Regions from separate parts of the Homo sapiens genome. Here region 1 is linked to region 2. Evidence: fine-mapped expression QTL. Tissue or cell type: esophagus mucosa. Region 2 holds a variant in brackets; the other region holds the start of a gene. All regions are shown on one strand. Distances are from middle to middle.

Region 1 (2,907 bases), 24 kb before region 2:
AGAATATGACAGATGTCAGCTTCTCCCTGTGTCAGATGATATGTCCTTGAAGCTGGCAGGGGATTCCCAGTCCAGGGAATATCCCTACATGATTTTTGTCATTCATGGGTCCTCCCTGGGCCTGACAACGGGAGTGGTGGGTGGGTGAGAACAGGTTCTGAGAGGGGGCTTCTAGGAAGGCCCCAGCCCTAGTCCTAGGCGACTTGAATAAAGTGGGAGGTCAAACATGGGCCTTCGGCATTGGGTTTCTAGGGAATATGGCTCAGTAGGGCCTGCCCCTTCAAGGGCAGCAAGAACGAAGCAGGATGTTGTCACTCCCGTCTGAATAAAGCTCCATGAGCTGGGTTGGAAAGCTGAACATTTATCTTGCTTTCTTCTTCCCACCTCTTTCCCTGGGGTCCCCAGGGGTGTCTTGCCTTTGTTAACCCCCATCGGAGACCTGAGGGTCTGGGGGTGGTTGGGCCTGCCTTTCTGCTGTTCCCAGCTGTTCCCCTGCTGACATCCCTAGGAGTGGTGGAATGCCAGGCTCCTGTCCTGTGGCCTGGGGGCCTGGGGCATCATTGGGCCTGCCTTCAGACTGAGGTTGCTCTATGTTCTCACTGCCTGAGGACAGTGTCCCGCCACCACCTGCCTTCCTGAGGACCACACTCAGGCTCGGCTTCTCTTCCCCAGCTGTGGCTTCCCATGGTACCCTGCTGCTTATGCCACCTGTGGGGCTGTTCCCCTCCTCAGAGAGGGGAATGGGGCTGGTCAGAGGACCTAGGGATCACCCTTCCTTTTACTTTTTCCCCCCACCCCCCTGTCAGGCTCAGGTGAGAAGCCGAGGCCAGGCTGTCCAAAGCTCTTTTCATGTGTAACAGTTCTGAGTCCCTTGACCTCCCCCCTTGGCCTGACTCTGGTCTCGGTTCCACTAAGACAGAGTCCTGTCATCTTTCCCTACCATCCCCCACTGGACTGTCTCTCTCAGAAACCCCAGGCAGCCTTGCCTCCTGACCTAACTCCTGGAGATGCTGGTGTTCTTGGGAGGAATTTCTCCTGCATCTTACATGCTAGAAGCCCCTGGGGCAGGAGGTAGGGGGAGGAATTGAGAGGAGGAAAAACATGAACTAGACACCTAGAGAAGAAGGATGTGACTTGTAGTATCCTATGTCTAAATTAGGAATATGAATCTGGTTTTTCTACAAGAAGTTTGAGATCACAGCTGACTGTGTTCCTGATGCATCCACCAAACCCAGTTCCATCTGTGGGCCTCCCTGGCTCTGTCACCAGCCGTTGCACCCTCCCAATCACAGGAGTCACAAACCTCAGACATGCAGCTCCTGTCCACACTTAATATATGCATGCATTGGATCACCCAGCCCTGGTCTTTCTGCCTCCATGGATAACTGCATGACCCTGAGAGAAAACCTCCTTAGATTTAGCATCCTAGGTTCCTCACACGCCTCACCCTGAATCCTGGCCCTCCCGCAGCCCCAGCGCCATTTGTCCCATCAGTGACAAGATTCATATTCTGATGTAGACTCTGTTGCCAGAGCCAGTGTTGAGCCAGTCCGCCTCTTCCCCGGGAAGTGCCTGCCCTTCCCTCCTGTTAGGGTTGGCTCTCGAGCTTGTGTGCCAGTTCCTGGGTTGGCCGTGAGAGTTCTACAGACAAGGAGGAAGTGCTCTCGGTGTATTTCCTGTGGTGGGTTCACACGCAGCTAGACACAGCTAACTTGAGTCTTGGAGCTCCTAGAGGGAAGCTTCTGGAAAGGAAGGCTCTTCAGGACCTCTTAGGAGCCAGGTAGGAGTCTGGGACTACTAGTGAACCTAGACCTGTGGCTCTGGCCAGAGGGGCTAGGATGAGAGACAGAGGGTGTGATGGTGGGTGCTGGGAGATGTAGCCGACCTTGGGGCTGGTGGCTGGGGGAGTGGGTAGCCTGGGAAAGGCCAGGATGTGGACGGACTGGTATGGCATTGAGCCTGAAGTGGTCCAACTTGGGGTTCCCCAGTGCCTAGGAAAGTTGTCCCCTTGAATGTCAGTGTGAAGGTGAAGGAGGAAGCAGATGCCTGTTCATATGGAAACAAAGACCTGGCTGTGAAGAGGGGAGGCGGACACCAAAGTCCTGACACTTGGGCGGGACAGAATTGATCTGTGAGAGACTCATCTAGTTCATACCCTAGGTGACCCTGGGGGTGGCATGGGGGTAGATTAGAGATCCCAGTCTGGTATCCTCTGGAGAGTAGGAGTCCCAGGAGCTGAAGGTTTCTGGCCACTGAACTTTGGCTAAAGCAGAGGTGTCACAGCTGCTCAAGATTCCCTGGTTAAAAAGTGAAAGTGAAATAGAGGGTCGGGGCAGTGCTTTCCCAGAAGGATTGCTCGGCATCCTGCCCTTCCCAGAAGCAGCTCTGGTGCTGAAGAGAGCACTGCCTCCCTGTGTGACTGGGTGAGTCCATATTCTCTCTTTGGGTCTCAATTTTGCCTTCCCTAATGAAGGGGTAAGATTGGACTAGGTAAGCATCTTACAACCATTTGTGGTCATGAGAGCTGGGGTGGGGAAGGATTGTCACTTGACCCCCCCAGCTCTGTTTCTAAGTGCTGAAAGAGCTCCAGGCTATGCTACGGGAGGAGAAGCCAGCTACTGAGGAAAAGCCAGCTACTGAGAAAAAGCGGGAGTGGTTTACCATTCTCCTCCCCCACCTTTCACCAGAGAAGAGGACGTTGTCACAGATAAAGAGCCAGGCTCACCAGCTCCTGACGCATGCATCATGACCATGAGACACAACTGGACACCAGGTAGGCCTTGGGGCTACGCATGGGCAGGCGGGGTAGGGTGAGGTCTATGAACAGAATGGAGCAATGGGCTAACCCGGAGCCTTCACTCCAAGGCAAACCACCCAGCGCACCTGGTGCTGTTGCTTTAAGAACCT
Region 2 (2,907 bases):
GGAGTACAGTGGCACAATCATAGCTCACTATAACCTCCAACTCCTGGAGTCAACTCCTCCTCCTCAGCTCCCCAAGTAGCTAGAACTACAGACACACACTGCCACACCCAGCTCATTTTTTTTAAAAAAAATATTTTTTGTTGAGACAGGGTCTCGCTATGTTACCCAGGCTGATCTTGAACTCCTGGCCTCAAGCAATCCTCCTGTCTCGGCCTCCCAAAGTGCTGGGACTATAGGCGTGAGCCACCACGCCCGGCCAGGAAGCTTTTATATATAACTATGTTGGCCTCTTCCAGATGACCCTACCAGAGGAAAGGATGAGATAAATGAAGTGAAAGTTCTGTGGGGGAAAAAAAACACACACACACAGAAACACATATAGGAACAGAGAATAATTTCTACGTATTATCCTAAAACACATTACAGTTAAACATATGCACATAAAAAAGGACTTGAAAGTACATCCTTTAAAAAGTTAGCAAACTCTGGGAATGAGTTTATCGGCAACTGTTATTTCCTCCTGCATGCTTTTCAACGTTTCCCAGACTTTCTATGATGAATGGCAATAATTGCTATAACTGTATTTTTAAAAAGTCCAGTATCTGCTGTTCAAAGAAAAACAAGTCAGGTGAGGTGAAGCATGGGCTAGGCCTGCTAGGTGGCATGGAGGCACAAGGGCTTACCTGAATTTTATATTCAAACTGTTCCCAGTCCCTGGGACTTTTGGAGCTCATGGTAGAGTGGTATAAGAGCAGCATGGTCATCTAGAAGCCAAACAGGAGGCAGTCACTGAGTGGGGCTGTCTCTCTTCTCAGTGCCCCCATTCTGGGCTGTTCTGGGGACTCTGAGCTATTCCGGTGACTCTTCTAAAAGTCCTGGAATTCAGCAATCCCAGGCCACCATCCTTAACAGCTCCAGGAAACACTTTTTTTTTTTTTTTTTAATTAAGGATAGTGTACACTGTACAAAAAGCTGAGCGCCAAGATTCCTGCATGGCTCAATTCCTGGACTCATGGAACCCTGGGTGTGAAGCTTTAGGTACCCTCTATAGGCCAGCACCCAGAAAGAGCAGAGGGAATGACTTAAGACTGAGCTATAATAAAAATATGGTGATAGCCGAATGAGA[C/T]CTGATTTCTGCCAGGTCTCCACCGAGGCCCACAGTAATGGTCTAGTAAACCATTGTTTGTTTCATAATCTCTGTCATAAGATCATGGGCTCCTAGAATCCTTGGGCTAAATTAGCCTCTGTCTCAAGACAGGTGGCTGCCTGGTTCTACCTCCAACGTACTAGAGCCCCAGAAATAAAGCACCCATCATCTCCCCTTGGGTTAAGAGAAGGCCCTGCAGGGTCCCTCAGGTACCATCACCCCAACCCTGCCCTGCCTCCCCAGTCTGGTATTCCATAGGTACCTTCGCCAGTTCCAGCTCTGATCCCTCTAGCACCTTCTGTGCAGATACCAGGCATTCTGGGGAAGAGGGATGTTTTCGATTTTCTGCAATGACAACAACGTAGAAAACAGGGTGAACTTCCTGGAAACCATACCTGAGATCCCAGAACACTGAAATCTGGGGAGCAGAATGGCTATCTCTGGTGGGGCTATGAGATGTAGGCCTCCTTACTCCTATGGCCTCTTTCCCCTGCCTTACAATTTTCCATCTGAAGTCAGTTCTATCCTGGGTCAATCCAAGGGCTACAGGGATAATGGAAGAAGAAAGCAGCCTCGGAATTCACAGCAACTCTGGGTCATGATGTTGCACTCTCCCACCCACTCACCAACTCTCAGCACCACAGAGGAAGAGCCCAGAGATGCCAGGTCACTTTAGAATCCTGTTCCAACTGAGGTCACAGAGTAAACCTATAGCTGAGTCAGAAAAGGACAACTAGGGATACGTGACTCTTATACTGCCCGAGGGTCTGGGCTCAAATTACTAACACCTTACTTTATCTAAATAAAGCCTCACCTTTCCTATAATTCTCTAGGGGTGGAGATGGCAGCTAGCTCCCCATGTCAAAGACGAGGACTCTGTGGTCTAAGGCTGGACAAGGGGAGGGGAACTGAAAAGCACTGTACTAGAAGCTTTGCATGTGTTCTTATTTAATCCACCCATCCACTTGAAGAGCAGTTATCTCCATATTATAGATAGGGAACCTATGTCCAGAAAGGTCACACAAGCAGTGAGGGGGGTCAAGATCAACCTTAATGTGCCTCTGCCCCTACACCTATCGCCTAAGCAATTAATTCAAAGTTATCTGGGAAAAACAGTTTTTCTTGCAAGGGAAAGAGACTCATTCTCTCTTCTGTCTCCTTGAAGTTCGGGGAAACAGAAACTTAAGGTGCTCAAAGAGTTAAAAGTGACAGGTCCCAAAAAGTAACCTTCTGGCTCCACCTAGATCTCCGAGAAGGGCTCTGGGACTGAAGGGACACTCTTCTTACACCAACTGATGAAGGCATCACAAGACCCAGGGGATCTGAACCAGCTGTTTTCATCTTTGTGTTAAAGAGTGGGGAGCCTTGAAATTTTTCTCCTCCAGACACCCATGAACTAGTTCCTCTGGACTCTCCAATCCCACGAGCTGAGGAAGCAGCTTCTTCATAGCTGGATAAGAAAGGTGCTTACTCTGCAGAAAACTGCACACAAAGTCCAGTCTCTCTGACACCGGCTGCTTCAAGATTTGCTGTCCCTCTTCAGTGCCATGGCTAGAAAAAGAGCAAGTATTAGGACCAGAGTATTCAGCAATCTTTGCCTCCTTGCTGCTGCATTTCATAGTACCTCCCCATTCCTTCCAGTCTTGATCTCTGCTGGATCTGGAAGAGATCCAGATCAGATCCTGGAGGCAGGTGACAGATACCAGGACACCATTTATCCAGATGGAACTGTGTGGTGGGTGGGAAGAGGGGACTTGAGG

Alleles and levels. Positions count from the first base shown, and alleles are read on the strand shown. Sizes are in standard deviations (SD) of each study's normalised expression.
As copies of T replace C in region 2, the expression in esophagus mucosa of the gene that starts at base 1,670 in region 1 goes down (large effect, 1.2 SD a copy in GTEx).

What was found.
Region 1: IL18BP starts here. The variant in region 2 is fine-mapped to the expression of IL18BP in esophagus mucosa (GTEx, PIP 0.97).

The regions. Positions count from the first base shown.
Region 1 is chr11:71,997,240-72,000,146 of GRCh38, forward strand. IL18BP (interleukin 18 binding protein) reads left to right here and starts at 1,670. Exons shown (of 6, transcript NM_001039660.2): 1 at 1,670-1,780; 2 at 2,688-2,773. The coding sequence starts at 2,746. It overlaps RNF121 (ring finger protein 121), which reads left to right. Exons shown (of 9, transcript NM_018320.5): 9 at 1-358.
Region 2 is chr11:72,021,656-72,024,562 of GRCh38, forward strand. It overlaps NUMA1 (nuclear mitotic apparatus protein 1), which reads right to left. Exons shown (of 27, transcript NM_006185.4): 5 at 2,619-2,698; 6 at 1,410-1,492; 7 at 684-764. Among named protein-coding and RNA genes, the nearest start is that of NUMA1-AS1, 8.8 kb to the left of the region's middle. The variant C/T (reference allele first, on the strand shown) is at 1,127.